2 linked regions of the Homo sapiens genome follow. The protein of the gene in region 2 binds, or shares a complex with, the protein of the main gene of each other region. Each region holds a gene or a part of one and is shown on either strand. Other genes may lie near its edges. The genes, in order: SMARCAD1 and TRIM28.

Region 1 (8,185 bases), on a different chromosome or scaffold from region 2:
TATTTGAATTCTTAAAGACATTTACCTTTTTTTTTTTTTTTTTTTTTGAGATACAGTCTCTGTCCCCCAGGCTGGAGTGCAGTGGTGTGATCTAGGCTCACTGCAACCTCTGCCTCCCAGGTTCAAGCAATTCTTGTGCCTCAGCCTCCTGAGCAGCAGGGATTACAGGCACGCTCCACCATGCCTGGCTAATTTTTGTATTTTTAGTAGAGACGGGGTTTCACTATGTTGGCCAGGCTGGTCTTGTGATCTCAGGTGATTTGCCCACCTTTGCATCCCAAAGTGCTGGGATTACAGGCTTCAGCCACCGCGCATAAAAATCTTACCATTCATCTTATCTCATTCCCATCAGGGATCTAAACCCTGCCCTTCATTACTTTGAAACCTCTCATATCTCTTTCTTCTCCATTTCTACCGCTATCATTAAGCTCAATTACAGGAGTTGCCTAAATGTTTTCTTTCCCTTCAATCCCTACCCTCAATCAGTGTGTACTAGTCACTACTGCTAAACTGACTTTTAAAACTTTCTTTCACCATTTTCCATTCACTCTGTAAGTTCTTCAATGGATATCTAATACTTACAATGTAAAATCTAAACTTCTCAGTTTTCAAGATTCTCCAAAATTCACAGTATCATTTAAAACAATCTTTTATTAAAGCAAAGTGCTCCATTCCTACAAGGATTAATTCTCAACATTCCTAGAACAAACTTAGTTTTCTTATTTCCCGAAGCCATCAAGGCTGATCATGTAATTCCTAAAGCAATCTCAGTTTTTAAGCAGAATTTATGTATGGAAAAAAGTCCCAATAAAGAGAAAATGAGTGTTATCATTAGAAAGAAATAAAAACAGAAAAATATCTTCTGATCACTAAAGGAAATTAAAGATTTCACATGACCAATACTGATAAATAACTAAAACATTCCACTGAAATCCAGTTTACAAACTGCTTTCACTTTCAGAGATGAAAAAAGTGTGGATCACAGATTTCAAATGACTTGTCTAATGTCCCACATTTAACAAAAATGAAGAAGCAGAAGCTTCTATGGACTCGAAATCCCATGTCTACACCTTGGCTTTCCTGAACTATCTAACTACAGAGGAAACAGACAAATATATTCATTGGAAAAGCATTAAAATACCTGGATGTCAAATATCTATTCAAAGAGTGAACACAGGGATTAAAATCCTGGTGCTTAAAATCCTTCAGTTGTTCCCTATAGCATTTAAATTCAAAACTACTTAGACAAAGCCTTTGTAAATCTGACTCCTAATCCAATCTACCAAATCATTCTGCCAATTTCCAATTACACCAAAGTATTTAAAAATGTTATTCTAATGATAACTTGCAGAGGATCTGCCATCATTATTACATTTAAGTAGAAGGGTGGCAAACAAAAAGATACCAAGGATAAACATGTGTGTTACCAATCTTTCAGGCTACATTAAGTTAAAAGCTGTTTACGAAACAGAGTTTTGCATAAAAAAAGATATTACTGAAATAAATATTAAAATATAACTTCCAACATTCCTTTCACCTTTCCTAAGAAACTAACTAATTAGTTTATGCTCAGGAATCATACTGCCAGGACTTGAGTTCAGGCTCTACCAAGTTCCTAATAACCTCTCTGAATCTCATTTCACATTAACCTCTATGTCAGTAATATCTACCTTGTAGGATTATTGTGCAAATTAAATGACAGAAGGTGAAGCACTTATCACTATTCCTATAATACAACAAGAGCTCAAATATATTCCTCTAATAGTTAACTGTTCAATGAACATAGATTCGAGTGGAAATCTTAATTTTTGGCTTATCCTCAAATACTTTTGTCTCTGACAATCTGCTGATGAGGTTAAAAATGTTCATTCACCATGAAGAATACCAATTACTCATTTGCATTCTGAGGACATCCAGGAAGTCAGGTGGATGCAAGAACTTGATGTGATCTGATCTTCCCTTGTGTACAGAGGTTGTCTTTAGGCACCTTGCTCAATGTCTAGCTCACAGTAGATGATCAATATTTTGAGGGAATACTGGAATGAATGAAAATGTCTGCCCAAATAGCCTCAAAGTTTATCATAGGACTGAATCACTGACATCGCTCTTCCAATAGCAACCGTTCTGACCTATGGATGCCCTAAATTCTAATTTCAACTTCCACCATGGGGCCATATTCGAAGAACTCATATAAAAGTGAGGCGACAATGGATGGATGCTCAGTTGAGGGTACATGGTGCTTATGGCAGTCCCAAAGCTGTATTTAAAAGGGCACACCGCAGGACAATGCATCAATATATATGACATCAAGAATAAAAATGAGAATCCCTTCTGCCTTTCATCTTTTAAAAACTGTCCTTGATGTTACATCAATTTTAACATTGTAACTCACCTGTTTTTTCAGTTATATCTGAATCAGGAGTGTTTGCCCTGCTAACTTCCCCTTCAGCATTCTCCTCTTCAGCACTAAGAGAAATTGGTGAAGAAGGGCCAGGCTGGGAAGGTTGAGGGGTTGCTTCGGGCGCTTCCTCAATCTTATTCCTTTTCTCAAAGCGAAAACGGTCCAGGTTGAAAAGATTCATATTGGTAGAAAGCACCACCTTGCAGGGATGGGGGCTTTAAATGAACTATCTGCAGGGGAAAAATAAAGAGAGGAAAAAAGGCCATGAAAACAATATACGATACAATGCCACAGCAGTTTATTCCCAAGGCAATAAAGGGCCCGCAAACATGCCAGTGGCTCAGGACTGTTATGGCTGCGCTTCATTGTTAGGCCGCAACAATTAGAAGGTGGACGGGGGTATCTTTTAAAATTTTCCATTGCTTTTCACTCCCCTTCGTCCGCCTCCCCCGCCCGCCCCTCCTTACTGAAACCACGAGCTGACCCTCATGCAACCTCCTCTTACCCAAGCACGCGCAGGCACGTTCCCCAGTATAACCCCCTAGCGGGCCTCGCGCCCGCCCACAAAGAGAAGCTCCCTGTGCTACCGTGCCCCCTGCCTCGAGAAAGGACCTGCCAGGGCCCGCGCCTCGACACTGCGGGGACACAAAGGGGCCAAAGAAGGGGAGCGGCGGAGGCCGTGCTGGCGGGCATCCGCCCGGAAGTTGACGCGGCGCGATCCCAGCTGAGAGGAAGCTGATAGGATTAAGAACACACAGGAAGGTTCAGAGGTGGAGTGCATGCTAAGGCATCTTTTTAACGTTCAATCGCTCGCTTGTTCTTTCTTCCCTCAGTACTTACGATCTTGTAGCCTCAGTGCTATGTAACAAAGGTTGAAAATAAAAAAAAAATTTCCTAGCGTGGGGCGACGGTAGCCGTGCCGGGACCTTCCAAAACACCACGGAGAAACCTTAAGAGCGCGTAATGATGACGCAACACGCAGCCTAGGCTTTTTCTTCCCAAACAACGCGCGAGCCGACAATGTCGAGGCGCGCGCTGTTGTCATGGTAATTCGTACCCGTCTCCGCCGGCTTGTAAGGGCCAGATTGTTCTGTACCTTTGTCCTGTTAAATTATCTAGAGAGTTATTAAATAGAACAATAGTAAATAGCATAATGACAAAAAATAACAATATATAATACAATTAGTATATATTGTATGTATTATAATCTGTAGTGTTTCACCTATAATATAATGTAGATAGCATAATAGTAATAATACTGTGCTAAGCTTTTTCAGTGTATAATCCCAATCCTTACAAGAAGCCTATGTTTACAAAGCAAAGAAACTGAGACCTGCAAATGTATAGGTAATTAGTGACGGATAAGAACCCCGGGATGCTGAGCTTCAAAGCATTTAAAGTAATTCCTCACTTTCGGCTTGATTGTTCTTAGAATGGAATTTGATTAATTAATTAATTTTTTAAAAATATTTTAATTTTTAATGTTTGCGGGTACATAGTAGGTGTACATATTTATAGGGTACATGAGATATTTTGATACAGGCATGCAATGTGTAATAATCATATCAGGGTAAGTGGGGTATCCATAACAAGCATTTATCCTTTGTGTTTCAAACAATCCAGTTATTTTAGTCATTTAAAAATGTACAATAAGCTGGGAGTGGTGGCTCACGCCTGTAATCCCAGCACTTTGGGGGGCTGAGGCAGGTGAATCACAAGGTCAGGAGTTTGAGACCAGCCTAGCCAACATGGTGAAACTCCGTCTCTGCTAAATATACAAAAAATTAGCCGGGCGTAGTGGCGGGCGCCTGTAATCTCAGCTAATCGGGAGGCTGAGGCAGGAGAATAGCTTGAACCTGGGATGCGGAGGTTGCAGTTAGCCGAGATCACTCCACTGCACTCCACCCTGGGCAACAAAGCAAGACTCTTGTCTCAAAAAAAAAAGTACAATAAATTGTTGTTGACTGTAGTCATGCTATTGTGCTATCAAATACTAGATCTTATTCATTCAAACTGTATTTTCGTACCCATTAACCATGCTCACCGACCACCGGGGTCCTCCCCCGCCCCACACTACCCTTCCCAGCCTCTGGTAGCCATCGTTCTACCGTTTCTCATACGTTCAATTGTTTTAATTTTTTAGCTCCCACAAATATAATAAATGAGAACATACCAAGTTTTTTTTCTGTGCCTGCCTTATTTCCTTTAATATAATGACCTCCAGTTCCATCCATGTTGCAAATGACAGGATCTCATTTTTTTTAATGGCGAAATAATACTCCACTGTGTATATGCACCACATTTTTCTTATTCATTCACCTGTTAATGGACACTTAAGTTGCTTCCAAATCTTGGCTGTTGTGAATAGTGCTGCAACAAACATGAGAATGCAGATATCATTTCGATACACTGATTTCCTTTCTTTTGCATATAATTCACCTATCTTGATGGAAATGTTAGCTTAAGAATATATACTCCTGGCCGGGCGCAGTGGCTCACGCCTGTAATCCCAGCACTTTGGGAGGTGGAGGCGGGCGGATCATGAGGTCAGGAGATCGAGACCATCCTGGCCAACACGGTGAAACCCCGTCTCAACTAAAAATACAAAAAATTAGCCGGGCGTGGTGGCGGGCGCCTGTAGTCCTACCTACTCGGGAGGCTGAGGCAGGAGAATGGCATGAACCAGGGAGGCGGAGCTTGCAGTGAGCCGAGATCACGCCATTGCACTCCAGCCTGGGCAACTCCATCTCAAAAAAACAAAGAATATATACTCCTGGGCTAGGAGCAGTGGCTCACGTCTGTTATCCCAGCACTTTGGGAGGCCAAGGCAGAGCTGGGGCAACATAGTGAGACCCCATCTCTAAAAAAAATACAAAGTTATCCAGGCATGATGGCACACGTCTGTAGTCCCAGCTACTTTGGGGGCTGAGGCAGGAGGATCACTTGAGCCTGGGAGGTCGAGGCTGCAGTGAGCCATGTTTGCACCACTGCACTCTGGCCTGGGTGACAGAGCAAGACCCTGTCTCAAAAAAACAAAAAACTAAGATATACTCCCTTTGTTCCAACATTAGACAAGCAATTTTCTGAGTTATAATTTGAGCTTCTGGTTGGCATTTCCCATAAAGAGGAATTGCTACAAATGATCATTCTGCCAGATATATTAGCCATTGTAAACTTAAATTGCCAGTTTGTTTTATAAGTCAGTGTTGTGAATTGTATATTTACAACACATACCCACAGTTTTATCAAATGTGGGCACATTTATAAAATCAGGTGTCTGGGCCAATAAAACTCAAGATCAAAGCCTGAACAATTAGGACTTCCTTTATACCTATCTTTAATATCCCATGAAATGCATTAGTTTTATGCATGCATATTAAATTATGTGATCAAAGAATATATTTACTTATGGCCAGGCACAGCGGCTCATGCCTGTAATTCTAGCACTTTGGGAGACTGAGGTGGGAGGATCACTTGTGGCCAAGAGTTCAAGACCAGCCTGGGCAACAAAGGGAGACTTCATCTCTCTTTTTTTTTTTTTTGAGACAGGGTCTCACTCTGTCACCCAGGCTGGAGTTCAGTGGTTCAATTGTGGCTCACTGTAGCCTTGACTTCCCAGGCTCAAGCGATCCTCCCATCTCAGCCTCCCAAGTAGCTGGAACTACAGGTACTTGTCTCCATGCCTGACTAATTTTTGCATTTTTTGTAGAGATGGGGTTTTGCCATGTTGGCCTGGTGGTGGGGGTGGGGGGAGGCGGGTTGGGGGCATCAAGGCTGCAGTGAGCCATGATTGAAAGAAAAAGAAAAGAAAAAAATATATATTTACTTGTAAGTAGTAAATTATTTTTGGTGATGAAGACAATTTGATTTCTATTTAGAGAGATCTGACATTGAAAATGGACTCCTCTAGCTGAATGACCTTTCTAAGTCTTACTTTCATCATTCTTTAAATGTGATTAACAATAATATTGACGCTTAGAGTGCTTTTCTGCAACAGTACCACCTCTTGACGTTATAGCTGGGACAAGATTGAAAATGAACCACATAAATTAAAAATGTCTAAATATTTAAACATTATAAATATAGCCAACAAAGTGTAAAAGTTAAATATGTTCTTCCTATTTTGAAAATACCAGGGAAGCCAGGTTGAATTTAGAATTTCTATTGTGTCAGAATGTGGGTTAATGAAAGAGAATTGATTGGCTCATATATCCTGCCTTGCTAGTGTCACCTTTTCATACACAATTTGATACTAATGGTATCAATAACGATATCATAATGGGCCATGTGCTTATGCACATAGATGCCCAGCATATGGACACCCAACTCTGGCCCCCAACTAGGGTTACCATATTTGTTTTTTTTAAAAAAGGGATGTACAGTTAAATTTGAATTTTAAATAAACAATGAATACATTCTTAGTATAAATTTGTCTGATGAAATACTTGGAACTGATACTAAGACATTATTTGTTGTTTATCTGAAACTCAAATTTAACAAGTTGTCTTGTATTTTATTTGGCAAACTTACTGCTCTCCCACTCCTTTGTCACCTCTTGGACCTTGGGGCCTTTTGGCTACATTTTTGGCCTAGGGTTATAGATACTGAAAGCACTGTTTGCCCTCAGTAGGAAGGACCTCGGGAAAAGTCACTGTTAGACTTCTTGGGGCTGTGTGAGCAAAGAATTTTAGGGACCAGGTACTCAAATTATTGTCTAAAAGTGAAGGCACAAGTTCTGAATGAACACGTCTTCTTGGCCCCAAAGATTCCTTTAGGGCAGGGCATAGCTGGAAAGAACTAGATTTTGCCCTTTAAAGCACTAGACCAGGATAGGGACTCCTTTTGACCAGTTCTAAGGGTAGGATTTTTCTGCAACCTTCATTGACCTGGGAGAATTATAATGATTCATGATTGGGGTTCTCTTTGAAAGTGAAGTAGAAGTTTAAGGGTATGTATTAGTTTGCTAGGGCTGGTATATTAACAGCCTGGATGACTGAAACAACAGAAATTTATTTTCTCTTGGTCCCTGAGGCTAGATTTCCACTCTCAAGGTTTTGGTAGAGTTAGTATATTCTGAAAGCCATGAAGGAAAGATCTGTTGCAGACAATAGATGAAATCAATGAATTAGCCAGGCGTGGTGGCACACGCCTGTAGCCCTGGCTACTCAGGAGGCTGAGGCAGGAGAATTGCCTGAACCCAGGAGGCAAAGGTTGCAGTGAGCCATATCATGCCACTGCTTTAAAGGGTGACAGAGCAAGACTCCATCTCAAAAAAAAAAAAAAAAAAAACAATGAAATATGAAGAAATGATAAATATAAGATTCAGAGAAGTGAGAATGAAGCTTTGAATAATAGGTGTAAACAATCATACATACTCACACACACATACCAAAAAAAAAAGAAATAATGAAAAACATAATAGAAAACGTTCATGGGCTTTCATTTAGTCTGCATGTGAAAGAGCTTAGTGAATTCAGGCAGAATCAATTGAAAGAGACTATACAGTAAAAATATCCTGCAGAATTTGTTTTAATTTCAAGAATTTAAAAAATGTCTTGCAAGCATTTTTCAGAAAAAATCTACAGCCTACAAAGGGAAAGAAATCAAGCAAAAGCTTTTTTGTTAAACGTCAGAAAGTAATGATGCAATATTTATAATGATTTGGGGAAAACGATTGTGACTCAATAATTTTCTAGATCACAAATATTCATTTGTGGAAGAAAAAAATTCAAACTTCTAGTTTCCTGAAAATATATCTTCCTTAAAATATTCCTAAAGACATAA
Region 2 (8,163 bases):
GAATGAGTTGGGGCCTCATTTCCGGCCTGTTCTGTGACACTGGGCCATTTATTGGGAAGATGTAGAGGGTGTGGCCAGGGAAGAACACAGGCCTGCAAGCCCAACTCCTTGCTCCCAGAATCCTCTGCCCCAACATAGCTGAGAAACACATCCCTTTCTTCTAGCTTCTAGAGATAACAACAATGTAAGGGTAAGGATAACAGCGTCTAGAAAAAGAGGACCACCCCACCCCACCCCCCACCCCCGCTGACCCTTCCCCACACTGTTCCCTTTACTGAACACTTCTCCAAGTGGACATACTCAGAATTCTGCCTACACACCACCCTGGATTCCTTTTCTTCTCCTTTCATGGTTAACTTCCTCCCTCTTCCCTGACAAGAGAACACCAGGGTCTCTTACAATCCAAGGGCCCAGAGGAAACCTTGTAGAGGTTCTCATACTGGGAGAGATGAAATGTCAAACCAGGACCCTCAGAATGGTGGTCACACCCCCTCTAGAGCAGAATCTTGGTGCTCAGCATAATCCCACCCAAAGACCAACCCATTAATAACCTCCAAAGCCTGTCTCCCCATTAGAAAACTGATCAAACACACTGGTCCCACATACCAACCAAATCCAAAATATGTAGCATCAGGGCTCATTGGGGAAACTGACTTCCCCAATGCCACTCATTCCTGCACCCTGACCTTTGCCTGGGACGTCTGGAATGTAGGACACCCTGCAGCCCCTGCGTATCCCTCCTGGCTGCTCAGGCCCCACAGCCACCACCTTCCCGCTATCTTCCACCAATGCTGTCCTCTGGGATGGGAAGAATCACAGTATGGCTACCAAAAGGCCACTCATGGGAGGATTCTGGCCCCAAAACTTGGCTAGACTCAAAAGACTCTCAAGCTCCTTCCAAACCAAAGCTAGCTGTGTCTGTGAAAAGCTGGAAATGCCAAACCAAACTTTGGGTAAGTCTCTGCCAACTCAAAAGCTAAAACACTTCCAAAAATCATCATCACTTATAATCCATGGACCCACAGTCTACTTTCCCTAGCAGCATCTTATACCAGATGTGTGCCAGGGAACCACAAACCCAGAAAGCCCTTCACACCATGCCTTTCCCTGTTTGCATATGCTGAGCCCTTCACCACCAGGTCTGACAACTCCCTGATAAGCCTTCTCAAACCCTTTGTACCTCCCTGCAGCACATTAAGGTCTCCCTTATTTCCCCTTCCCACCCTCTCCCACCTAGGCCCTAGAGACTACACACCACAACCCCAGTTTTTCTGCTTCTGGAGTTCTGCCCTCGGGCCCTTCGGGCGGCACCCCCTAGAGAACTCTAGGACCCATCCACCAGATGCAACCAACATCATAAAAGCAACTGAGGGCACACATGGGAGAACAACTCCAACAGCCCCCCTCAGCCTCATGTACCAGTAGAGCGCACAGTATGGTCCTTGGTGTACTTCACCCGCTGGTGCGCCTCTACACAGGTCTCACACAGAGGCTCCGAGCACTCCACACAGTAGCTGGTGGCTGGGGCATTATCCTCACAGCTAGTGCAGCACTGCCAGACAAAGGCAGGGTCAGAGAAGGCAAGACAACTTGATAGATCCACGTTTACATCCCAGAAAATACAACCGGAGATTTAAGATTGGTCCCTTGACCCAACCTAGGCAGCCCACCCAGAGCCTTGGGAAAGTGGAGTAACAGCCTGGAGCTGGTGCCAAGCTCCTCCTGCGCAGATGCCCCCTCCCCAGAAACCTCCTTGTGGTTGCTGAGATAGGACGCACCTGGTTCGCATCCTGGGCGTCGGTGGCAGCCTTGCTGCCACTATCACGCATGAAATAATTCTCCACGATGTCTTTGGAGAAGCACTGTTGCTTGCACACGGGACAGTCCACCACTTCGAGAAGCAGGGATGTGGGAGACTGTTACAAGTTCCCACCCAGGTTATGGCCCCCACCATTCCCCTGCTGGGTGGGCCCCCGACCATTATCCCGCAGCGAACCAGCCCCTCCCCTCCCCGAGCCTTCTTTTCTCCAACTTTAGTCAGATGTCCCATCTCAGCGGCCAGCACAAACCCACGTTCGTATGCAGGACCCAGAAAGTATTTCCCGTGCCCTGTCCGGGCCCCCATCCTCTCGCCCAGGTGGCATCCTCATCTCTGCACCCAGTCGGAATCAAAGGCAGAGAGTAGGGGGAGGGGTGGCACCGATCACTTCGTACTTACCGGTGCCGTCGCCCGCCGCCCCGCCGTCCCCCGAGCTGTTGGCGGCGGCGGGGGCCGCGGGCCCTAAGCAGGCACTACAGGCCGAGTGCAAACAGGGCAGCAGGCGGGGCTCCCTCTCGGGTCGCAGGCGCTCTCTGCACACGCCGCAGTGCTCCAGCAGCTCCAGCGCCTCGGCGCCGCCCCCCGCGGGCGACGACGCCGCGGCTGAGGCAGAGGCCGAGGCTGCGGCCGAAGGGGCGGTGGAGCGCTTTTCGCCGCCAGCGGAGCCCTCGCCCGGGCCCGGGCTGCCAGAGGCGGCCGAGGCCGCTGCTGCCGAGGCTGCCGCCGCGGAGGCCGCCATTCACACGCCGCCGGGGGCGCCCAGGGGGGGAGGAGGGGCGCGGGGCCCGCCGCGCAGGCGCAGACGCGCTCGCCGCCAACTGCTGGGCCGCTGCCGCCGCCGCCGCCGCGAGGCCGAGCGCCGCCACGCGCCTCCTGGGCCGCTGCCCGCCGCGCGCGGGACGCTGCTACGGCACGGCCAACTGCTGCCTGCTCGCCTCCCGAAGGCGCCGCCCGCGCTTCTTCCTCAGCCGCCGCCGAAACCCGCACCACGCGCCACAAGCACAAGCACAACCGCTCGCCCGCGCGCCCGCTCGCAGAAAGAGCCGAGGCCGGGGGGCGGGACAGAAATAACTGGCGCCGACGCCGCCGCGCACGCGCATTGGGCGCCTCACGCCCGGGGGCGGGGCCCAGGCCGGTCGGTGCGGGAGAGGCCGCCAGTACGCACGCGCCAACTCCTAGTCCTTCCACCACCGCCAACCCCACGTCGGTGGGGCTCTTGTGGGGGCGGGGCGGGGCCTCTGTGACGTCACTGCCGCAATTGAATCCGCCAGTGGGGTATGCGAACCTTTATAGAGTGTGATTCCCCTCTCAGCTCCACCTCCAGACCACACAGAAGCGGGCCGCTGTGCGCCCAAGCGCATGGGCAATCCGTCCCTCTTCCTCAACCCGCGTCTCTTCGCCGCCGTAGAGTCGTCTCCAGCCTCTGCGTCACTAAGAGTTCGGGATAGGGGGCAGGGCCGATGGAGAAGTAGGCGGGGCCAAGACCGAGTGAAGGGCTGTGTCCAGGGAGAGGGGAGGAGAGTCTCCATCCCAAGAGGGAGGAAGCTCCTGTGTGAGCTCGGGTGCTGACTTTTGGATTTTAACCACGCTATAGTTAAACTTGAGAAACACAGAAACTTGACTGAATCAAATGTAGATCACAGCCGGGCGCCGTGGCTCATACCTGTAATCCCACCACTTTCTTAGGCGAGTCGGGAAGCTCCGTTTAGCCCAGGAGGCCGAGGCAGCAGTGAGGCGGGATTGTGCCACTGCACGCCAGCCTAGACCACAGATGGAGAAAAATGTGGCCGGGCGCGGCGGCTCACGCCTGTAATTCCAGCACTTTGGGAGGTCGAGGCGGTTGGATCTTAAGTCAGGAGTTCGAGAGCAGCCTGGCCAACGTGGTGAAACCCCGTCTCTACTAAAAGTACAAAAAGTAGCCGGGCGTGGTGGCAGGCGCCTGTAATCCCAGCTACTCGGGAGGCTGAGGCAGGAGAATCGCTTGAACCCGGGAGGCGGAGGTTGCAGTGAGCCGAGATCGTGCCATTGCACTACAGCCTGGGAGAAAAGAGTGAAACTCCATCTCAAAAGAGGAGAGAAAGGTTTTTGTGTTTGTTTTGAGACGGAGTTTTGCTCTGTTGCCCAGGCTGGAGTGCAGTGGCACGATCTCGGCTCGCTGCAACCTCCGCCTCCCGGGTTCAAGCGATTCTTCTGCCTCAGCCTCCCGAGTAGCTGGGATTACAGGGGCCTGCCATCACGCCTGGCTAATTTTTGTATTTTTAATAGAGACGGGGTTTCACCACGTTGGCCAGGCTGGTCTCGAACTCCCGACGTCAGATGATAGACCCACTTTGGCCTCCCAAAGTGCTGGAATTACAGGTGTGAGCCACCACGCCGGGCCCCCCAACCCCCCATCAAGAAAAAAAATATATATATATATATACACATATATATAAATCACAAGAGGCTAAAGAGCAATGAGTCTGTGAAATCCCACCCAGCCCCCCAAGGCATCCCCTCCCCATGTTTTCGTCAGCAGCTACCCTGACTTTGATGCTTTTCCAGATGGGGAAACTGAACCTCAACAGTGGGGAATCCCAAGGAGGGAAGGAAGCAGGTCCATGTGGGGAGAATCCTGTCTGAGGTGGAAAGTAGGGTTTGTGTGGGGAAAATCCTGTCTGAGGGAAAGAGGGTGTGTGTGCGGAGGGGAACCCTGTCTGAGGAGGGAAGCAGGGTCTGTGTGGGGAGAATCCTGTCTGAGGAGGGAAGCAGCGTCTGTGTGGGGAGAATCCTGTCTGAGGAGGGAAGCAGGGTGTGTGTGGGGAGAATCCTGTCTGAGGAGGGAAGCAGGGTGTGTGTGGGGAGAATCCTGTCTGAGGAGGGAAGCAGGTTCTGTGTGGGGAGAATCCTGCCTGAGGAGGGAAGCAGGGTCTGAGTGGGGAGAATCCTGTCTGAGGGAAGCAGGGTCTGTGTGGGGAGAATCCTGTCTGAGGAGGAAAGTAGGGTGTGTGTGGGGAAAATCCTGTCTGAGGGAAAGAGGGTCTGTGTGGGGAGGGGAGCCCTGTCTGAGGAGGGAAGCAGGGTCTGTGTGGGGAGAATCCTGTCTGAGGAGGGAAGCAGGGTGTGTGTGGGGAGAATCCTGTCTGAGGAGGGAAGCAGGGTGTATGTGGGGAGAATCCTGTCTGAGGAGGGAAGCAGGGTGTGTGGGGGGAAAATCCTGTCTGAGGGAAAGAGGGTCTGTGTGGGGAGGGGAATCCCTGTCTGAGGAGGGAAGCAGGGTCTGTGTGGGGAGAATCCTGTCTGAGGAGGGAAGCAGGGTGTGTGTGGGGAGAATCCTGTCTGAGGAGGGAAGCAGGGTGTGTGGGGTGAGAATCCTGTCTGAGGAGGGAAGCAGGGTCTGTGTGGGGAGAATCCTGTCTGAGGAGGGAAGCAGGGTCTGTGTGGGGAGAATCCTGTCTGAGGAGGGAAGCAGGGTCTGTGTGGGGAGAATCCTGCCTGAGGAGGGAAGCAGGGTCTGTGTGGGGAGAATCCTGTCTGAGGGAAGCAGGGTCTGTGTGGGGAGAATCCTGTCTGAGGAGGAAAGTAGGGTTTGTGTGGGGAAAATCCTGTCTGAGGGAAAGAGGGTCTGTGTGGGGAGGGGAGCCCTGTCTGAGGAGGGAAGCAGGGTCTGTGTGGGGAGAATCCTGTCTGAGGAGGGAAGCAGGGTGTGTGTGGGGAAAATCCTGTCTGAGGAGGGAAGCAGGGTCTGTGTGGGGAGAATCCTGTCTGAGGGAAGCGGGGTGTGTGTGGGGAGAATCCTGTCTGAGGAGGGAAGCAGGGTGTGTGTGGGGAGAATCCTGTCTGAGGAGGGAAGCAGGGTGTGTGTGGGGAGAATCCTGTCTGAGGAGGGAAGCAGGGTGTGTGTGAGGAGAATCCTGTCTGAGGAGGGAAGCAGGGTCTCTGTGGGGAGAATCCTGTCTGAGGAGGGAAGCAGGGTGTGTGTGGGGAGAATCCTGTCTGAGGAGGGAAGCAGGGTGTGTGTGGAGAGAATCCTGTCTGAGGAGGGAAGCAGGGTGTGTGGGGGGAGAATCCTGTCTGAGGAGGGAAGCAGGGTGTGTGGGGGGAGCCCTGTCTGAGGAGGGAAGCAGGGTGTGTGTGGGGAGAATCCTGTCTGAGGAGGGAAGCAGGGTGTGTGGGGGGAGAATCCTGTCTGAGGAGGGAAGCAGGGTGTGGGGGGAGAATCCTGTCTGAGGAGGGAAGCAGGGTCTGTGTGGGGAGAATCCTGTCTGAGGAGGGAAGCAGGGTGTGTGTGGGGAGAATCCTGTATGAGGAGGGAAGCAGGGTGTGTGGGGGGAGCTTCCTGTCTGAGGAGGGAAGCAGGGTGTGTGGGGGGAGAATCCTGTCTGAGGAGGGAAGCAGGGTGTGTGGGGGGAGAATCCTGTCTGAGGAAGGAAGCAGGGTGTGTGTGGGGAGCATCCTGTCTGAGGAGGGAAGCAGGGTGTGTGGGGGGAGAATCCTGTCTGAGGAGGGAAGCAGGGTGTGTGTGGGGAGAATCCTGTCTGAGGAGGGAAGCAGGGTGTGTGGGGTGAGAATCCTGTCTGAGGAGGGAAGCAGGGTCTGTGTGGGGAGAATCCTGTCTGAGGAGGGAAGCAGGGTCTGTGTGGGGAGAATCCTGTCTGAGGAGGGAAGCAGGGTCTGTGTGGGGAGAATCCTGCCTGAGGAGGGAAGCAGGGTCTGTGTGGGGAGAATCCTGTCTGAGGGAAGCAGGGTCTGTGTGGAGAGAATCCTGTCTGAGGAGGAAAGTAGGGTTTGTGTGGGGAAAATCCTGTCTGAGGAGGGAAGCAGGATGTGTGGGGGGAGAATCCTGTCTGAGGAGGGAAGCAGGGTGTGTGTGGGGAGAATCCTGTATGAGGAGGGAAGCAGGGTGTGTGGGGGGAGAATCCTGTCTGAGGTGGGAAGCAGGGTGTGTGGGGGGAGAATCCTGTCTGAGGAGGGAAGCAGGGTGTGTGGGGGGAGCATCCTGTCTGAGGAGGGAAGTAGGGTCTGTGTGGGGAGAATCCTGTCTGAGGAGGGAAGCAGGGTGTGTGGGGGGAGCCCTGTCTGAGGAGGGAAGCAGGGTGTGTGTGGGGAGAATCCTGTCTGAGGAGGGAAGCAGGGTGTGTGGGGGGAGAATCCTGTCTGAGGAGGGAAGCAGGGTGTGGGGGGAGAATCCTGTCTGAGGAGGGAAGCAGGGTCTGTGTGGGGAGAATCCTGTCTGAGGAGGGAAGCAGGGTGTGTGTGGGGAGAATCCTGTATGAGGAGGGAAGCAGGGTGTGTGTGAGAAGAATCCTGTCTGAGGAGGGAAGCAGGGTGTGTGGGGGGAGAATCCTGTCTGAGGAGGGAAGCAGGGTGTGTGGGGGGAGAATCCTGTCTGAGGAAGGAAGCAGGGTGTGTGTGGGGAGAATCCTGTCTGAGGAGGGAAGCAGGGTGTGTGGGGTGAGAATCCTGTCTGAGGAGGGAAGCAGGGTGTGTGTGGGGAGAATCCTGTCTGAGGAGGGAAGCAGGGTGTGTGTGGGGAGAATCCTGTCTCAGGGAAGCAGAGTCTGTGTGGGGAGAATCCTGTCTGAGGAGGAAAGTAGGGTTTGTGTGGGGAAAATCCTGTCTGAGGGAAAGAGGGTCTGTGTGGGGAGGGGAACTCTGTCTGAGGAGGGAAGCAGGGTGTGTGGGGAGGGGAGCCCTGTCTGAGGAGGGAAGCAGGGTCTGTGTGGGGAGAATCCTGTCTGAGGAGGGAAGCAGGGTCTGTGTGGGGAAAATCCTGTCTGAGGAGGGAAGCAGGGTCTGTGTGGGGAGAATCCTGTCTGAGGGAAGTGGGGTGTGTGTGGGGAGAATCCTGTCTGAGGAGGGAAGCAGGGTGTGTGTGGGGAGAATCCTGTCTGAGGAGGGAAGCAGGGTGTGTGTGAGAAGAATCCTGTCTGAGGAGGGAAGCAGGGTGTGTGTGGGGAGCATCCTGTCTGAGGAGGGAAGCAGGGTCTCTGTGGGGAGAATCCTGTCTGAGGAGGGAAGCAGGGTGTTTGTGGGGAGAATCCTGTCTGAGGAGGGAAGCAGGTTCTGTGTGGGGAGAATCCTGTCTGAGGAGGGAAGCAGAGTGTGTGTGGGGAGAATCCTGTCTGAGGGAAGCAGGGTGTGTGTGAGAAGAATCATGTCTGAGGAGGGAAGCAGGGTGTGTGTGGGGAGAATCCTGTCTGAGGAGGGAAGCAGGTTCTGTGTGGGGAGAATCCTGTCTGAGGAGGGAAGCAGGGTGTGTGTGGGGAGAATCCTGTCTGAGGAGGGAAGCAGGTTCTGTGTGGGGAGAATCCTGTCTGAGGAGGGAAGCAGGGTGTGTGTGGGGAGAATCCTGTCTGAGGAGG

Evidence for each region.
Region 1: the proteins of TRIM28 (region 2) and SMARCAD1 are in contact, whole or in part, in a crystal structure (PDB 6H3A), measured with the Homo sapiens proteins. Residues at the interface, in NP_005753.1 of Homo sapiens: Arg330, Trp333, Thr334, Lys337, Ile338, His341, Leu376, Lys377, Ile379, Val380, Asp381, Val383; in NP_001362784.1 of Homo sapiens: Asp156, Leu157, Ala160, Lys161, Gln163, Thr164, Glu167, Leu168, Phe169, Asp188, Gly189, Ala190, Ala192, Leu196, Ala201, Gly202, Gly203.

What each region holds. Positions count from the first base shown.
Region 1 is NC_000004.12:94,202,792-94,210,976, reverse strand, and holds the start of SMARCAD1 (SWI/SNF-related matrix-associated actin-dependent regulator of chromatin subfamily A containing DEAD/H box 1), read right to left. Parts: upstream 3,113-8,185; 5' UTR 2,907-3,112; intron 2,894-2,906; exon of another isoform or gene 2,735-2,893; intron 2,632-2,734; 5' UTR 2,583-2,631; coding exon 2,393-2,582; intron 1-2,392. UniProt on the Homo sapiens protein: DNA helicase that possesses intrinsic ATP-dependent nucleosome-remodeling activity and is both required for DNA repair and heterochromatin organization.
Region 2 is NC_000019.10:58,539,153-58,547,315, reverse strand, and holds the start of TRIM28 (transcription intermediary factor 1-beta), read right to left. Parts: upstream 3,253-8,163; 5' UTR 2,559-3,252; coding exon 2,219-2,558; intron 1,892-2,218; coding exon 1,779-1,891; intron 1,553-1,778; coding exon 1,420-1,552; intron 1-1,419. UniProt on the Homo sapiens protein: Nuclear corepressor for KRAB domain-containing zinc finger proteins (KRAB-ZFPs).